2 linked regions of the Homo sapiens genome follow. The protein of the gene in region 1 binds, or shares a complex with, the protein of each later gene. Each region holds a gene or a part of one and is shown on either strand. Other genes may lie near its edges. A codon is read from its position in the direction of its gene.

The links.
Region 2: the proteins of F2 (region 1) and F2R are in contact, whole or in part, in a crystal structure (PDB 3LU9), measured with the Homo sapiens proteins. Residues at the interface, in NP_000497.1 of Homo sapiens: Phe382, Arg383, Pro386, Gln387, Glu388, Leu389, Leu390, Cys391, His406, Cys407, Tyr410, Trp413, Lys415, Leu423, Arg425, Arg431, Thr432, Arg433, Tyr434, Ile441, Met443, Glu457, Asn458, Leu459, Asn506 (codon at 518), Thr510 (codon at 530), Lys517 (codon at 551), Gly518 (codon at 554), Gln519 (codon at 557), Arg541 (codon at 623); in NP_001983.2 of Homo sapiens: Ala33, Thr34, Asn35, Thr37, Leu38, Asp39, Pro40, Arg41, Ser42, Phe43, Leu44, Leu45, Arg46, Asn47, Pro48, Asp50, Lys51, Tyr52, Glu53, Pro54, Phe55, Trp56.

The regions. Positions count from the first base shown.
Region 1 is NC_000011.10:46,728,906-46,738,563, forward strand, and holds part of F2 (prothrombin preproprotein), read left to right. Parts: intron 1-474; coding exon 475-656; intron 657-9,658. UniProt on the Homo sapiens protein: Thrombin, which cleaves bonds after Arg and Lys, converts fibrinogen to fibrin and activates factors V, VII, VIII, XIII, and, in complex with thrombomodulin, protein C. Functions in blood homeostasis, inflammation and wound healing.
Region 2 is NC_000005.10:76,710,370-76,719,912, reverse strand, and holds the start of F2R (proteinase-activated receptor 1 isoform 1 precursor), read right to left. Parts: upstream 3,788-9,543; 5' UTR 3,606-3,787; coding exon 3,518-3,605; intron 1-3,517. UniProt on the Homo sapiens protein: High affinity receptor that binds the activated thrombin, leading to calcium release from intracellular stores.

The sequences.
Region 1 (9,658 bases):
AGCCTTGCAAGAGCCCCTTTCCCTTTTCCAGGCCTCGGTTTCTTGGAGTGAACCCAAAAGTTCTTTTCAGTACTGGCGTTTTATTTTTTATTTATATTTATTTATTTACTGACGGAGTTCCACTCTTGTCTCCCAGGCTGGAGTGTAGTTGTGCGATCTTGGCTCACTGCAACCCCACCTCCTGGGTTCAAGCGACTCTCCTGCCTCAGTCTCCTGAGTAGCTGGGATTACAGGCTAATTTTTGTATTTTTAGTAGAGACTGGTGGGTTTCACCGTGTCGGCCAGGTTGGTCTCGAACCCCTGACCTCAAGTGATTCACCCGCCTCGGCCTCCCAAAGTGCCGAGACCACAGGCGTGAACGTCTGTGCCCAGCCAGCTCTGGCGTTTTAGATTCTGGTCTCTAAGAAATGGCGTTGGGGCCAGGCGGCTCCTGTGGGGGTTGGCTCTCACTAGGCCCTTCTTCCTTCCCCAAAGCTTGCTCCAGGCTGGATACAAGGGGCGGGTGACAGGCTGGGGCAACCTGAAGGAGACGTGGACAGCCAACGTTGGTAAGGGGCAGCCCAGTGTCCTGCAGGTGGTGAACCTGCCCATTGTGGAGCGGCCGGTCTGCAAGGACTCCACCCGGATCCGCATCACTGACAACATGTTCTGTGCTGGCAAGTCTGTGCAGGGCGGGCTGAGGGAACAGTGGGGCCCAAGCTGGGAGAACTGAGTTGTGCCTGGGTTCAAGCCATGTGACTTTGAGCAAGTTGCCTAACCTCTTGGTGGCTCAGTTTCTTCCTCTGTAAAATGGAGGTAAAAGTCTCTATCCCATAAGGTTATGGGAGGGTTAAATGAAGTAGTATATATTAATGTACTTGGCATAGTATCAGTCACCAGTGAGCTCAGATAGCAGCAAGAGGCTGCGGGTAGGGAAATGCCATTCATTCAGTCACTCAGCAAATATTTATTGAGCGCCTATCACGTTCCAGGCAGCGTTCTAGGGTATACAGCAGGGACCCAGACGGACAATGTCTGTGCCCTCAGAGAGCTTCCTTCCTAGGAGGGCACATCCATAAACAGATCTAAAACAGCAATCCCTGACCAGTGCTGTGAAGAAAAATGAAGCACAGGGAGAGAGAACGGCTGATGAAGTGGGCTTCTAAATAGGGTGGCCAGACAAGGTGGGCAGATCACTTGAGGTCAGGAGTTCAAGACCAGCCTGGCCAACATGGTGAAACCCCGTCTCTACTAAAAATACAAAAATTAGCTGGTCATGGTGACGCATGCCTGTAGTCGCAGCTACTCAGGAGGCTGAGGCAGGAGAATTGCTTGAGCCAGGGAGGCGGAGGTTGCAGTGAGCTGAGATCGGGCATCATTGCACTCCAGCTGGGCAACACAGCAAGACTCCATTGATCGATCGATCAATCAATCAATCAGGTGGCCAGAGAAGGTTGGAGAAGGCCTCCCTGAGAAGGTGATGTCTGGGCAGGGACTGGAAGAGGGGAAGGAAGGAGTGAGCAGGCATATCTAGGGGAGGAGCACCGCAGGCTGGGGGCATGGCAGGCACTAAGGCCCTGAGGTGGGAGCACTCTTGGCTTGTCTGGGGAGCAGTAGGGAGGCCTGGGGGGCTGAGGAGGGGCAGCAGTGGGTGAGGGGAGAGAGGGGGGCAGGCAGAGGACAGCCACTTCCTTTAGGGCCTGGAAGGACTTTATTGAGTGAGATGGGAAGTTATTGAGGGGCTTGAGGCAGGTTAAGAAATGATGTGACTGACTTTAAAAGTAAAAAATAAAAAAATTTAGTGTAATTTCAGACTCACAGAAAAGTTGTAAAAATAATACAAAGATTTCCTGTATACTGTCATCCAGATTGTCCTCCATTCTGTGGATGTGTGGGAATTTTTATATATATATATGCATAGTTTGAGAGCAAATCATGAATATGGTTTCTTTTTACCCATAAATACTTGAGTATTTCCAAAAAAAAAAAAAATACCCAAGGATGTTCTCTTATGCAACCACAATACAAATATTAAAACCCGGAAATTTTTTTTTGACATAGCTTCGCTGTCACCCAGGCTTGAGTGCAGTGGCACAATCTCGGCTCACTGCAACCTCCTGCTCCCAGGTTCAAGTGATTCTCCTGCCTCAGCCTCCTGAGTAGCTGGAATCACAGGCATGTACTACCATGCCTAGCTAATTTTTGTATTTGTAGTAGAGACAGGGTTTCACCATGTTGGCCAGGCTGGTCTTGAACTCCTGACCTCAGGTGATCCACCTGCCTCGGCCTCCCAAAGTGCTGGGATTACAGGCGTGAACCACTGTACTCGGCCAAAACCAGGAAATTTTTTTTTTTTTTTGAGATGGAATCTTGCTCTGTTGCCCAGGCTAGAGTGCAGTGGCATGGTCTCGGCTTACTTGGAATTACAGGTGCCTGCCACCACGCCCGGCTAACTTTTTGTATTTTTAGTATTTTTAGTAGTGATGGGGTTTCACCATGTTGGCCAGGCTGGTCTTGAACTCCTGACCTCGGGTAATCCACCCACCTCGGCTTCCCAAAGTGCTGGGATTACAGGCGTGAGCCACAGCACCTGGCCCAAAACCAGGAAATTAATGATGATACAATATTATTGTCTAATCTATAGACCTTATTCAAATTTTTGTTAGTCTTGCTAATGTCTTTTATAGGGAAAAAAAAAAAAAAAAGCGTGTTTCTCACCCAGGATTCAATGAAGGATCTTTCTTTGTCTTCTATGACCTTGACATGTCTGATGAGTGCAGTCTGGTTATTTTGTACACTGGCCCTGAATCCGGGTTTGTCTAAGGTTTCCTCACGGTCAGGTTCGGGCTCAGTGGTGCCATGTCCTTCTTGGTGCATCCTGTTAACTGGCACATGAGAACAATTTGTCTCATATGTGGTGAGTCTAACTCTGACCTCTTGAGGAAGGCAATGTCTGCCAAGTTTCTTGCTGTAACTTCTGTTTTTCCCTTTGTAATTAATAAGAATCTGGTAAAGAGACACTTTGATGTTTTTTTTTTTTTTTTTTTTTTGTGATGGAGTCTCCCTCTATCACCCGGGCTGGAGTGTGTGGTGCGATCTCGGCTCACTGCAACCTCCATCCCCCAGGTTCAAGTGATTCTCCTGCCTCAGCCTCCCAAGTAGCAGGGATTACAGGCATGTGCCACCACACCCAGCTAATTTTTGTATTTTTAGTAGAGATGGGGTTTCACCATGTTGGCCAGGATGGTCTCGAACTCCTGACCTTGTGATCCGTCTGCCTCAGCCTCCCAAAGTGCTGGGATTACAGGTGTGAGCCAATACGCCTGGCCTACTTTGATATTTTGTATTCTGTTTGCATCAAAACCTTCTCCCAACTAGGGTGACTACCAAATGGCACTTATCTAATTCTGTCATTCCTTCTACATTTGTTAGTTACTTTATTGCTTTCCTTCCTTTCATTCTATCAGTGTGGACTTAAGGATCCTTACTTTATTCTAAGGGTTCACCTTTTTTTTTCTTTTTTTTTGAGATGGAGTTTCGCCCATGTTGCCCAGGCTGGATGGAGTGCAATGGCGTGATCTCGGCTCACTGCAACGTCCTCCTCCCAGGTTCAAGCAATTCTCCTGCCTCAGCCTCCTGAGTAGCTGGGATTACAGGCATGTGCCACCACGCCTGGCTAATTTTTTGTATTTTTAGTAGAGACAGGGTTTCACCATGTTGGCCAGGCTGGTCTCGAACTCCTGACCTCAGGTGATCCGCCCGCCTCAGCCTTCCAAGGTTCTGGGATTATAGGCGTGAGCTCTACCGTGCCAGGCCATACTTTGTTACTACTGTTATTTTTTCTGATGCTCAGATGATCCCAAGTTTGGCCTGTGGAAGTCCCTTCAAGCTGGCTTCTGTGACTTGGGGAGATGTTCTGTCATTCTTTGAGTACTTTCTTTCTTTCTGGCACAGCAAAATGATTCAGGTTAATCCTACTTTCCTTACTGTAGTGTTGGAACCAGCCATTTCTCCAGGGAACCCTTGTAGTCAAGAGTGGAATTTAGAACTGAGATCTGGGTGCTGGCGTGTGCACATTGCTAGTGGGATGTCATTACTTCTAGGCTCTCTTAGTGGACAGAACCAGAAAAAAATTATATGATGCATATACCAATATCTCTATCATCTATATAAAAAACCATGAGTTCCTACTGAAACCTCCAATTCCATTCTAACACCACAGGATTAATTTTAGCTTTTCCTTTTCCATATTTGTAACTCTCTCTGTTGACAGTGAGAAACCTGACCCTCATTATCTGTAATGCATTTGCCTATTTGAACAATACTAGAATATAGTTTCAAAATCCTCCATCCATAACACTATTAAAACCAATCCTATGGCTGGGCTCAGCCCACTGCAACCTCTGCCTCCTGGACTCAAGCCAGCCTCCCACTTTAGCCTCCCGAGTAGCCAGGGCTACAGGCACACACCACCATGCCCAGCTAATTTTTGTATTTTTTGTAGAGACTGGGTCTCACTGTGTTGCCCAGACAGGTCTTGAACTCTGAGCTCAAGTGATCCATCCAACTCAGCCTCCCAAAGTGCTAGGATTACAGGTGTGAGCCACCATGCCTGGCCTCTCCTAGTAAATTTTTAGAAGTGGTGTTGTTAGGTCAAAAGGCAAACATGTATGTCATTTTTTAGAGATTTTTAAATTTCTTTCCATAAGGGTTGTACCAGTTTGCATTTCCATCACAGTGTATGAGAATGCCTGTTTCCCCACAACCTTGCCAAAAGAATGTCACAGTTTTAAATTTTTACCAATCTGAGAGGTGAGAAATAGTATCTTGAAATTGTTTTAACGGACATCTTTCAAATTGAAAATGAGGTTGAACATCGTATCATATGATTAAGGACCTTTTTTTTTTTTTTTTTTTTTTTTGAGATGGAGTCTCCCTCTGTCACCTAGGCTGGAGTGCAATGGCACGATTTTGGCTCACTGCAACTTCCGCCTTCTGGGTTCAAGCGATTCTCCTGCTTCAGCCTCCCAAGCAGCTGGGACTCCAGGCGCGAGTCACCATGCCCGCTAATTTTTGTATTTTTAGTAGAGACAGGGTTTTACCAGATTGGCCAGGCTGGTCTCGAACTCCTTACCTTGTGATCCTCCCGCCTCGGCCTCCCAAAGTGCTGAGATTACAGGCATGAGCCACCACGCCTGGCCTAAGGACCATTTTTATATAATTTTTTTTTTGAGACAGAGTCTTGCTTTGTCACCCAGGCTGGAGTGCAATGGTGCAATCTTGGCTCACTGCAGCCTCCACTTCCCTGGTTCAAGTGATTCTCCTGCCTCAGCCTCCCGAGTAGCTGGTTCCACAGGTGCGTGCCTGGCTAGTATTTGTATTATATAATTTTTTTGTGAATTGTCTCTTCATGGTTTTTTGCCCATTTTTTGGTCCCTTTCTTATCAATTTTTGTGAGTTCTTCGTATTTATATTAGGCCTTTATTTGTGATATACATTGCAAATGTTTTCTCCTAGTTTGTCAGTTTTTTTAACCTCATGTATAATTTTTCTGGCCATGCAGTTTAAAAAATTACTAGGTAGTCAAATTTATCAATCATTTATTTTATTAAATCTGGATTTTGAATCAGAGATAAACTTTTCCTGGCCAGGTGTGGTGTCTTACACCTGTAATCCCAGCACTCTGAGAGGCTGAGGTGGGGGATCACCTGAGGTCAGAAGTTCAAGACCAGCCTGGCCAACATGGTGAAACCCTGTCTCTACTAAAAATACAAAAATTAGCTGGGCGTGGTGGCTGATGCCTGTAGTCCCAGCTACTCAGGAGACTGAGGCTGGAGAATTGCTTGAACCTGGGAGGCGGAGGTTGCAGTGAGCAGAGATCGTGCCGCTGCACTCCAGCCTGGGTGACAGAGCAAGACTCTGTCTCAAAAACAAAACGACAAAAAACAACAACAGAAAAGCCTTTCCTGATAGCTAGGTCATTGAGGAATTCACTCATGTTTTCTTCTAGTACCTGATTTCATTTTTCTGCACTTAGATTCCTGACTCATATGGAGTTTATTTTTGTATCTGATGTGAGGCATAGATCTAATTTATTATTTTCCAAATGGCTAACTAGCTGTCTCTAAACCCTTTATTAAAAATTATTGGCCAAGTGCGGTAGCTCACACCTGTAATCCCAGCAGTTTGGAAGGCTGAGGCAGGATTGCTTGAGGCCAGGAATTCAAAACCAGCCCAGACAACATAGCAAGACCCTGTCTCTACAAGAAAATATTGGTCAGGTGTGGTGGCTCACGCCTATAATCCCAGCACTTTGGGAGGCTGAGGCAGGTGGATCATGAGGTCAGGAGATAGAGACCATCCTGGCCAACATGGTGAAACCCTCGTCTCTACTAAAATACAAAAAATTAGCTGGGTGTGGTGGCGCATGCCTGTAGTACCAGCTACTCAGGAGGCTGAGGCAGGGGAATCATTTGAACCCAGGAGGTGGAGGTTGCAGTGAGCTGAGATCACGCCATTGAACTCCAGCCTGGCGACAGAGCAAGACTCCATCTCAAAAAAAAAAGGAAAAAGAAAATATTTTAAAAATTAGCTGGGCATGGTGGCATGTGCCTTGTAGTCTCAGCTACTTGAGAGGCTGAGTTAGGAGGATTGCTTGAGCCTAGGAGTTCAATACTGCAGTGAGCTATGACCGCACCATTGCACTCCAGCCTGGGCAACAGAGTGAGACCCTGTTTCTATTAAAAAAAAAAAATCGGCTGGGCGCGGTGGCTCACGCCTGTAATCCTAGCACTTTGGGAGGCCGAGGCGAGCGGATCACCTGAGGTCAGGAGTTCAAGACCAGCCTGACCAACATGGAAAAACCCTGTCTCTGCTAAAAATACAAAATTAGCCAGACATGGAGGCACATGTCTGTAATCCCAGCTACTCGGGAGGCTGAGGCAGGAGAATCGCTTGAACCTGGGAGACGGAGGTTGCAGTGAGCTGAGATCCCTCCATTGCACTCCAGCCTGGGCAACAAGAGTAAAAACTCCGTTTCGCCAGGTGCGGTGGCTCACACCTGTAATCCCAGCACTTTGGGAGGCCGAGGTGGGTGGATCACAAGGTCAGGAGTTTGAGACAAGCCTGGCCGACATGGTGAAACCCCATCTCTACTAAAATACAAAAAATTAGCCTGGCATGGTGGTGTGCGCCTGTAATCCCAGCTACTTGGGAGGCTGAGGCAGGGGAATCACTTGAACCTGGGAGGAGGAGGTTGCAGTGAGCCGAGATGGTGCCACTGCACTCCAGCCTGGCAACAGAGCGAGACTCTATCTCAAAATCAATCAATCAATCAATCAATCTTTGAACTAGTGATTTGAGATTTCACCTTTATCACATTCTAGATTGTATCTTATTTTCATTTATTTATTTGAAATATAGACAAGTCTCCCTGTGCTGCCCAGGCTGATTTCAAACTCCTGGCTGGGCTCGAGCAAGTCTCCCGCCTTGGCCTCCCAAACTGCTGGGATTACAGACGTGAGCCACCATACCTGACCTAGGTTTTATTTTTTAGTTTTATTTTTTCCTGCATCCAGCTAATTTGATTTGATTTGTAGAGACGGGGTCTTGCTATGTTACCTAGGCTGGTCTCGAACTCCTGGGCTCAAGTGATCCTCCTGCCTTGGCCTCCCAAAGTGTTGGGATTACCAGCATGAGCCACGGTGCCCAGCCCCACGTTCTAGATTTCTATGGATAGAGTATGCTTAAGGATGAGTATGTTTCTGGATGTTCGACTCGGCTTTCCTGGTCTGTTGTCTGTCTGTGTACAGCGTCACATTGTTTTAATGATAGAGGCTTTAGCGTACATAGCTGGGAAGGCTAATGTTCTCTTTTAGTTTTTCTTTCCAGTGGTTTCCTGGCAATTCTTGCATGTTTGTTTTTCCATATGAACTTTAGTGTCAACATGCCTAGGTCTATAAAAAAGCTTGGTGGTAATTTTATTGGGATTATGACACTTCAACAAATTAACTGGGAGAATGGACATATTTTTGATGTTGAGTCATTTTATCCAAGGATAAGAAACGTTTTCCTATTTGCTCAAGTCTATTATTGTATCTTTCTTGACTGCTGCAATGTATTCTCTTATAATTTTTTCTATTGGTATCTTATTTTATGTATTTGTAATATCTTATTTTTCTTGAGTAAATTAGTTAATGGCTTGCCGGTTTTCTCAAAACAAATATCTAGGGATTTGATTTATGAAATTATTAGGCCTATTATTTTTCTTTTTTTTGAGATGGAGTCTCACTCTGTCGCCCAGGCTGGAGTGCAGTGGCGTGATCTCAGCTCACTGCAACCTCCACCTCCTGGGTTCAAGTGATTCTCCTGCCTCAGCCTCCCCAGTAGCTGGGGTTACAGGTGCACGCCACCATGCCCGGCTAATTTTTTTATATTTTTAGTAGAGACGGGGTTTCACCATGTTAGCCAGGCTGGTCTCGAACTCCTGACCTCATGATCCGACTGCCTCAGCCTCCCAAAGTGCTGGGATTACAGGTGTGAGCCACCGTGCCTGGCCTTTTTTTTTTTTTTTTTGAGACAGAGTCTTGCTCTGTCACCCAGGCTGGAGTGCAGTGGTGCGATCTCGGCTCACTGAAAGCTCCACCTCCCGGGTTCACGCCATCCTCCTGCCTCAGCCTCCCGAGTAGCTGGGACTACAGGTGTACACTGCCACGCCCAGCTAATTTTTTGTATTTAGTAGAGACAGGGTTTCACCGCGTTCGCCAGGATGGTCTCGATCTCCTGACCTTGTGATCCGCCTGCCTCAGCCTCCCAAAGTGCTGGTATTACGGGCGTGAGCCACTGCGCCCGGCCAGGCCTATTATTTTTCTATTGTGGTTCATTAATTTCTGCTTTTTTCTCTTAAAAAGTTTGCTTACGTTTTTGTCTGGTTTACTTTGCTGTTCTCTTGCTAGCTTTTTTTTTTTTCAGATAGGGTCTTGCTCTGTTGCCCAGGCTGGAGTGCAGTGGCACAGTCATAGCTCACTGCAGCCTTGAACTCCTGGGCTCAAGCAATCCTCTTCTTGCTTCAGCCTCCCACGTAGCTAGGATCAGAGGTACATGCCACCATGTCCGGCTAATTTTTTTTTTTCGAGACAGAGTCTTGTTCTGTCGCTCAGGCGGTAGTGCAGTGGTGCAATCCCGGCTCACTGCAACCTCCACCTCCACCTCCCAGGTTCAAGCAATTCTACCTCAGTCTCCTGAGTAGCTGGGATTATAGGCGCACACCAACATGTCTGGCTAATTTTTGTATTTTTAGTAGAGACAGGGTTTCACCACGTTGGCCAGGCTGGTCTTAAACTCCTGACTTCATGATCCGCCCGCCTTGGCCTCCCAAAGTGCTGAGATTACAGGTGTGAGCCACAGCACCTAGTGAAGGTGTGGTTTTTTTGTGTAGGTTTTACTGTTGTTAGTGTTGTTCTGTATTGTTTGTAGAGGATACGTGGGGAGATTTGGATAAAAGCAACTATCATTATTATCCTCATCAGACTTGTAGGTCTAACTTTTTAATTTTTTAATTTTTAATTTAAATTTTTTTCTTGGTCTTTTATCATTAATTAATTTTTTCGAGACAGGGTCTCACTCTGTTGCCCAGGCTGGAGTGTGGTGACATGATCACGGCTCACTGCAGCCTTAACCT
Region 2 (9,543 bases), on another chromosome or scaffold:
TCTTTTCAGAGCCTGCCTTATCATCTGTTAGCGAAAGTAAATGAGAGAATACCACAGTCCGTGCATAAATGCTCACTAAATACCTCCCTGTGCTGGGCCTGAGCTACCAAGGCGATAGGGCACAGACTTTGCTTCTATATTTTGATGAATTATCAAAAATAGGTAAATCCATACTGTACTAGGGAGCACAGTGGGGTTACTTCTCTACTGTAAGAGGTGCTGGGAGTCTAGATGGCTTCCTTTCTATAGGGGGTGTTAGAGAAAGCCTGCACTTCGGAGAGACAGGCCTGTGGTCAACTCCCAATTCCACCTCTTTTTTTTTTTGAGAGAGAGTCTCACTCTGTTGCTCAGACTGGAGTGCAGTGGCACAATCTCAGTTCCCTGCAACCTCTGCCTTCCAGGTTCAGGCAATTCTGGTGCCTCAGCCTCCCAAGTAGCTGTGACTACAGGTGTGCACCACCATACCCAGCTAATTTTGTATTTTTAGTAGAGACAGGGTTTCACCATGTTGGTCAGGCTGGTCTCAAACTCCTGGCCTCAAGTGATCCCCCTGCTTTGGCCTCCCAAAGTGCTGGGATTACAGGCATGAGCCACCGCACCCAGTCCCAATTCCACCTCTTTCTCAACTTGTGACTTAACCATTCTGGGTCTCTGTTTTATAACCAGTAAAATGAGGATGACATCTACTCAAAGGGCTGTTGTGAGAAATAAATAAGATAGTATTGTAACGTCCCTAAGAAGGATGTCAGCTGTAGTCAGTACTCCACAGAGGGTAGCTGTTTTTAATTAAACATGAACGTGGCGGGTATGGGATATGGGGAGGGCATTCTGGCCAGAGGGAGTGGCATGCGGACAGAAGCCAGAGAAAGCATAGCTCCTTGAAGGGAGGATCTAGAGGATGGGGCTGGGTGAACTGGAGGGTGAGTAATAGGAGATGGCTGGAGAGGGGCTGGGGACCCTCCTGCAAGGGGAGGAGCACTTCATTCCATGCCAGAGAATTGGGCTTGACTCTGTGAGTAGGAGGGTAGCAAGTGGAATTGCCCACCAAGTTCTCTCTGTCATAGTCACCACCAGCTATTCTTGAACACTTTAACCCTCTAGAGCCCCATAAAATTTATAAACATCACCTTTTACTCTTGGATGTTGGCCCTTTTAATGATCACATATCATCTCACTTAAATTGTCTAGACGAATGTAAACTGGTTGATGAATTTACACATTTCTCAACAACTATCTGCTGAGTGAACATTTGTTTTAGTCACCATGGGGATAAATAAAACTTTATAATCTTAGTTGGGAGAATGAGACACACACACAAAGTGACAAGGCAGGAAATGCCAAAATGAGTGGGAACAAAAAGTCGGGAAGTGCTGGAGGAAGGCTCAGCTTGGTGGTCAGGGCCAGCCCTGGGAGGGCTTCACCGCCCCTCTTGGCACACAGAGCTGGTAATCCTGGACAATAAACTCTATCACAGCGGTGGCGGTTCAAGGATGGGAGGCACTGTTGGATGCCTCAGAGTCCCAGCACCACTACCTTATGACAGACAATGCTTAGAATTGTCAATGCATGGTGGTAATAGAAAGTAAACCTATCTTGGGTTGATTTTATTAGTGATTTTAAATTTTCTAAAGACAAAGCCCCACTTATTCCTAATTGCTTGCACCCAGGGTGGGTGGACTGCCCCTTCCCTGCCCCACCCGCCACCACTTGCTTAGCCGCTGTCTCTGGGTCTTAGTTGCAGAATCAGCAAAAGGGGATAAATACCCACCTTAACAAGGTGTTTTGACAAGGTGAAATGAGACAATCCAAGTGAAAATTCCTTCTGGCCCAGGGCTTGACATGGAATATGGCACTTAGCAAGCGCTCCTTTTCCTCTATCATACTCCTTTCTTCTTTCCCTCCCAAAGTGGTTCCAGAATCCAGTGTTGATAAACTAGCCAAGTTCATCCACCTGCCTTTCTGTCTACACCAGCACTGTCCATATTAACATGCACCACTCCTGCCATGAGGATGTAAGAAGCTTGGCAGAAACCAGTACGCTTTGACTTCACTCCCTAATGAGGCTACACACCTTGCTGGGAGGCCACTGTGAGAAAGGGTGCAGCATTTCTATAAGCTCTGTTCTCCACCCCATGATCCAAATCTCAAACAAAACACTGGATTCTCAAGAGCGTGTCCTCAAACTACATTGTGCAAATTACATAATGGTATGTGAAATCATATCTCATCGCAAACAATTTTTCAGGAGTTCTCGGTGTTCTCTCAAACACTTTCGGCAACAATGCTCACTTATCTGCAGGCAGGCTAGTTACTGCTAAACACTGGGCCCCAGTCTGGAGCTCTTAGTTTTCCCAAAAGCATCTCAAAACTCACCCTGAACAAAGACAGAGAGGCGAGAACATGCTATGTCTTTGTCACCTCTTAATCTTGATGTGTCTACACTTTTTTTTGAGTGTGGGAGCAATATAGAGTGCACATTCTTTTAGCGATAACAAGAAAACCCGCTAGAACTTCTTTCAGCGTAAAAAAAATGGCTCAAAGCTTATAAAATACTATTGTTATTAGGAAATTCAAAAACACTTTTCTCACTTTCTAATTAGCGCCTTTACAGGCTAAAAACAACTCATCTGTGCTGCTCTTGGGGAAAGGGATACAGAAAATATTTGACCAAATAAATTAATCAAATTTATTTATTTGGTCAAGTGGCCAGATACTTAAAAATAGACTACTAGTGGGGAAAATATTCTAGGGGAGCAACCTTCTTGCAGTGGATCAGAAATCTCGTTAAGAAATACTGGGATCCCACAGTGTTCGAGGGAGCCCGGTCCTGGGGAGGGATCTCTCTCTTCAACTCACTTAGAAGGAATGGGTTCTAGGTAACAACAAAATCCTCTCCATGTCCCCTCCCCCGCCACCACGCGGAGCCTCTGCTATTGTCACCATATATCTCGCACCCTGCGCACCTCCTGGACACAAGGCCGGGCCGGGGGCTGCTGGTACTGATTCTCTGCTAAACATGCCAAGGGACTGCCTGGGCTTTTCTCTACATCACTTTTCTCGCCTGTAAAATGTGCAAGAAAAAAACTTCCAACAAAGCAAAACTTCAGCGGCAGCGGTTCGCCACTTTATATTTTAAAGATCGAAACGTTTATTGGTGGAGCAACGTGAGAGCTTTTCTTTTTGGGGGTGGTCCTGGGAGAAACACAATGACAAGTGCAACGCAGGACTGCAGGCTCCCCCAGGGGGCTTCCGCTCCATCCTCCTCCATATCCAACACCCCGTGGCAGGCGGGCTGCACCCTCCAAGATCGAGTCCAAAGGGGCATCGGCTGGGCCCGCGAAGGGGGTGGCACGCCCCACCTAAACGTGACTGGAAAAAACTCCAGATCTCAGCCCAAATGCCAGTTTGGCTTTCGGAGGAAACTGAGGCAGGGGTGAGGAGAAGGCGCAACAGTGACCCCCGCAGTCTCCCCTCGGCGTCCCTCCGCCCGCGCACCCCATTCCCGTGCATCTCTCACCTGGCCTGCGGGCCCGGGTGCGGGCAGACAACAGCGGGCCGCACAGACTGAAGCAGGCGGCCACCAGCAGCAGCCGCCGCGGCCCCATTGTCCCGGGCTCTGCGCGGCGCTGCTCCGGGAGGCTGCCCCGCCTCGGGCTGCTCCGCTTCACCCTCTCTCCTGACTTCTGCGGGTCGGGGAGCCGGTCTTCGCGGCAGGCAGAGCGCAGGGTGCCCACGGGTAAGATCAGGGTCCAAGCGACCCTCGGCGAGCGCTGTGTCTGGGGCGGTTAGCGGGGCGGGGCGGGACTGGGGCGCGCGGTCGCGCGGGCGCGAGCGAGGAAGGGCGCCCTCCGGCGTGCAGTGAGAGTCTCTGCGCTGGAGCCGCTCGGCGCCCCCTCCCCGCGGTCCCTCAGCCGCCGCTCGCAAGCCCCTCTGGCTCTGTGCGCCCCGCCCCGCCCCGCCCTGCCCTACTGGGGGGCCCTGGCCGCCGGCCACTGCCGGGCCTAGAAGTCCAAATGAGAAGTTTTTTCCTCTGGGCACCGTTGATTCGCGAAGCTGTCAGTGACTCACACTGGCGGGGTCCTTGGAATGGGGCCGCACGGCTCGCAGGCTGCTTCCCGCGGCCGTCTCGACCCTCCTGGGATGTGGAGACGTCGACAGTGGACGCCCCGGCCAGGATGCGTCCACGCCCTGCAGCCCCGCAGCCCTGGCGTGGCCTCCCGTCCTCCCTCCCTCCGTGTGGGACACCGGCAAAGTTCAGTTTTCGCTAAAAGTCTAAAAGGGACTTCTGCTTTTGTAACGTGGGGATCACGGATTTAAAAGTTTATGATGTAGTGACAGGGTTGCCCCTAAATGAGAAAGGGCCCTTGAGTCTGGACAGAATTCTTGAACTTTTATACGTCTCTCTTTATTTCGCGAAGTTAGGCGTTTCATACGCCGGGCACTCGTTTCCCCCACACGCAGACTGCGAGTGGAATAGGAAGAGCGGCTTCTCCCGCTTCCCCCCCGCGCGGCCTCGCGGAGCTCTTCCCTTTCCCGCGCCGCCCGCCGGGGTCACCTGCGCATCTGGGAGGAGGGCGCGCGTCTGCCGGTGAGGCCGGCGTTCTAGGGCCGCGGGCGCCCAGGAGAGAAATGGCCTGGTAACTTTCCAAGTGTCCTTCACACGTTCTTGAACGATATTACAGTTTGTTTTGTTTTTGAGGCAGGGTCTTGCCCTGTCGCCCAGGCTGGAGTGCAGTGGCGCCAACACGGCTCACTGCAGCCTCGATCTCCCTGGCTCAGGCCACCCTTTCGCCCCAGCCTCCGGATTACCTGGGACCACAGAAAGGCGCGCGCCACCATGTCCGGCTAATTTCACTGCTGGCCTCAAGCGATCCTCCTGCCTCAGCCTCCTAAAGTGCGGGGATTACAGGCGTGAATCACCGCGCCAGGCCTGATATTAAAGGAGTTTGGCTAAATTCAAGGCACAGGGCGGGGACACTCGCTTGGCAGTCTGCTAAGGGCCCCCAGGGGCGTCGCGGCTGGGGGTGGGCAGGAGGAGCCTGCAGCTTAAGTTGCTTTGCCACTGGCTCTGGTGCGTGCGCCTTTCAGACTCCAACAGGAAATGGGTCCCCAAATAGCTGTTTCTAGGAAAGCTCAGCCGCAGCCCCTTCTCCTCTTAACCCAGCGCACTGATGTGCGGGCATATTCGGAGTTCTGTGGTTGATAAGCTGCAGCTGAGAGCCGGTGGTCAGTTTTCTAAGCCTTTTTTAAAAGTGAATTTCGCACGAAGAGTATCATTCCCCCACTAGAGCCCGGACACTTACATCCGTGGAGAAAGTACGATCAGAGGCGATTTCGTTCTTCCCTGTATTCTCCCATCATCCTCAAAGGACAGTACCTTGTTGTACACAGAAGTTGATCACTAAATTGCGGAAGTACCCAGTTAAATAAAGCTTTTTAAAATCTATCCCCGTTCAGTTATCCTCTGGAAACATACCCAAGAGTAAATGTGAACAGTTAAAATTACATAGTTCTTCATTCACTATTAAACTATTTTTCATTATTCCTAAGACGTCATTGATTTTACAATTTATCATTTTAACCCATTACCACAAGCCAGAAAAAAATGTGACATACCAATGATTGTAAGAAACACTCCAATTTCAGGGTTATGAAGAAAAGGCATTTTAGAATCAATGAAACACAGTGGAAAATATAAACACATATGACAAAATTTCTGATAGTTGAAGGATATGAAATGAAAAATAAATTACCTTCTGCCTCCCCTCCCCTAGTTGCCATCTGACCACTAAGTTTCCCCTCCTTCCTTCCTTCCTTCCTTCCTTCCTTCCTTCCTTCCTTCCTCCCTCCCTCTCTTCCTTCCTTCCTTCCTCTCTTCCTTCCTTCCTCTCTCTCTCTCTCTGTCTTTCTTATTTTCTTTCTTTCTTTTTTTTCCTGAGGCGGAGTTTCACTCTTGTTGCCCAGGCTGGAGTGCAATGGCGCGGACTCGGCTCACAGCAACCTCCGTCTCCTGGGTTCAAGCGATTCTCCTGCCTCAGCCTCCCGAGTACTTGGGATTACAGGCGCCTACCACCGCGCCTGGCTAATTTTTTGTATTTTTAGTAGAGACTGGGTTTCACCATATTGGCCAGGTTGGCCTCAAACTCCTGAACTCAGGTGATCCACCCGCCTTAGCCTCCCAAAGTGCTGGGATTACAGGCATGAGCCACCGCATCCAGCTACCTGACCACTAAGTTTCTGTTCACCATTCAAAAAATCATATCCACATACAAATTGCATATATGTATATCCTTAAAATAAGAATGGAATAATACCACCACATTTTAAAATTTTATCTGTGTCATTGGTGGAAAATGTTATTTTTAACCATTTTACAAAACGATAAAGCTTAAAAGGATGCTTTGGGGTCTTAGTTGTTAGAACAAAATGTACCTCTAGTGACAAAAAGACGTACAATGAAGGCTGGGTGCAGTGGCTCACACCTGTAATCCCAGCACTTTGAGAAACTGAGGCGGTCAAATCACTTGAGGTCAGGAGTTAGAGACCAGCCTGGCCAGCATAGAGAAACTCCGTCTCTACTAAAAATACAAAAATTAGCCGGGCTTGGTGGTGTGCACCTGTAATCCCAGTTACTTGGGAGGCTGACGCAGGAGAATCACTTGAACCTGGGAGGCAGAGTTTGCTGTGAGCCAAAATTGCACCACTGCACTCCAGTCTGGGCAACAGAGCAAGACTCTGTCTCAAAAAAACAAAAACAAAAGCAAAAAAAAAAAAAAAAACAAAAATAATGAAATGCTTAAATGCTTTGTGCATATTGACTAAAGGATTCCTTCTAGGAATATTTCTGCCAGTTGTATTTTTTGAGGCTTGTTTGGTACATGTTTATCTAATTCTTTTTAAATAGTATACTATTCCCTTGTATACATATAATAAATTTTAGTCTTCTAAAACTATTTTATCTGTAGTGTTGTCCCCATTTATATTCCTAACATAGCTAATTTTTTGCTTTTTTCCCTTTATCTGACCAGAGGTCAGAAATGACTATTTTCTAATGCCCGTCTTTTTGCTCCGTTACTTTTATTTTTATTTATAAACACAGATTTTTAATTCATTCTTTTCCTCTACTTTCTTTGAGTTTACTCTTTAGCATAATTTTTTTTTTTTTTTTTTTTGAGACGGAGTCTCGCTGTATCGCCCAGGCTGGAGTGCAGTGGCGCGATCTCGGCTCACTGCAACCTCCGCCTCCTGGGTTTACGCCATTCTACTGCCTCAGCCTCCTGAGTAGCTGGGACTACAGGCGCCTGCCACCACGCCCGGCTAATTTTTCTGTATTTTTAGTAGAGACGGGGTTTCACCGTGTTAGCCAGGTTGGTCTCGATCTCCTGACCTCATGATCCGCCCGCCATGGCCTCCCGAAGTGCTGGGATTACAGGCGTGAGCCACCGCGCCCGGCCTCTTTAGTATAATTTTTTGAACTGATTATTTTTTACCTCTTCTCCTTCAAAAGACCACATCAGCTACATTTTGCAAGTTTTGATATGTGCATATATAAAATTCAGGTCTAAATATTTTGTCAATTTCATTCAATCTTCAACCATAAATTCTTGGATATTTTGACTGGCTTTTTGTGACTGATTTCTAATTTTATGGTCTGTTAGTGATGTTGTTTTTTGTTTTGTCCTTAGACTTCACAAAGTTCCTATGTTTATGTGCTCTTAAGAGCTTTTTTTTTTTTTTTTTTGAGACGGAGTTTTGCACTTGTTGCCCAGGCTGGAGTGCAACGGCCGGATCTTGGCTCACCACAACCTCCGCCTCCTGGGTTGGAGCGATTCTCCTGCCTCAGCCTCCCAAGTAGCTGGGATTCAGGCATGTGCCACCATGCCCGGCTAATTTTTGTATTTTTTTTAGTAGAGACTGGGTTTCTCCATGTTGGTCAGGCTGATCTCGAACTCCCGACTGCCGAGACCAGCTCGGTGGTGGAGACCCTAACCTAGCGGTGCTAGAGGAATTAAAGACACACACACAGAAATATAGATTGTGGAGTGGGAAATCAGGGATCTCACAGCCTTCAGAGCTGAGAGCCTCGAACAGAGATTTACCCACATATTTATTGACAGCAAGCCAGTCATAACATTTACTAAAAGTATTACTTATGGGAAATAAAGGGATGGGCCAAAACAAAGGGATGGCTCTTGCTAGTTATCTGCAGCAGGAACATGTCCAGGCACAGATCACTCATGCTACTGTTTGTGGTTTAAGAATGCCTTAAGCGGTTTTCTGCCCTGGGTGGGCCAGGTGTTCCTTGCGCTCATTCCAGTAAACCCACAGCCTTCCAGCGTGAGCGTCATGGCCATCACGAACATGTCACAGTGCTGCAGAGATTTTGTTTATGGCCAGTTTTTGGGCCAGTTTATGGCCAGATTTGGCGCCCTGTTCCTAAAACCCGACCTCAGGTGATCTGCCCGCCTTGGCCTCCCAAAGTGCTGGGATTACAGGCGTGAGCCACCGTACCCGGCCTCTTAAGAGCTTTTTGAAGAAGATAACCCACTACTTCATTTGTTCCACGCCACTCCTACCAAAACCCCTTTGTCAGTTTTAAAGCAAACATCTGTAGGTTTCTGAGAGTAGAAAATCTACTTAACCAGAGATGATAAACATGTTGAAAATCTGCCTAACCAGAGTTGCTAAAAATATTTCTTGGAAATGAAATCTTGACTTTGCAGCATCATTCATATTGGAACCACTTGATATTAGTTTCCGGTTTTCATTTTCTCTGTTTTAACTTGCCTGGTACCAAATAGTATGAGTCATTAGCCATCCTCCCATAATGTTTATGGTATTTAGTAGTGTTTTCAAACAAATGTGGCATCAACGTGGTAAACATTTTAATAACTAGATGATACGAAAGCAGTTTCATGTAAGCCATCAGATGATCTACCTGCTTCAGGTATTCTGGTTACCACTCTTCTATTTGAAGTGTTCCAAAGACAATAGTATATTCTAAGAACTTGCATAGTAATTTCCTTTTGGAAGCTAAATGATGGGGATACCAGAGCTCATATGAAAGTATTCAAAGTAGGTTGAGGCACTACCAGATTCTGTGTATATATTGCCACATTTTTTTTAAAGCAAACAGAAGGTTTGTAATCAGGTTACAAGCCAACCAACAGATGACCTGTTTCTGTCTTTCGCTGTTATAAACCCGTACTGTCAGCTTAGATTTGGAAGTTTATCTCTCATAATGGATCAACAACTATATTTCTACCATCGATAGAATGGTAGGCTATCCCTATGACTTAGGGTGCTAAACAAAGGTCAAATTCAGTATCTATTAAAAGACGACAAAAACCAAAAACTTTCATTCCAGTTAAGTAAGGTGAACACATTATCTCCTAGTTCTCCCTCTTCATTGATTTCCCTTTCAATATATTTTAGCTAAAAGATTTTATACTCTAAGGAAAACAGTGAGGCAACATAGTAAATCTGTATAAGATATTTTATTTGGAGATTGAGTTGAGAGGCTATTCATTTTTAGGCTGAGAT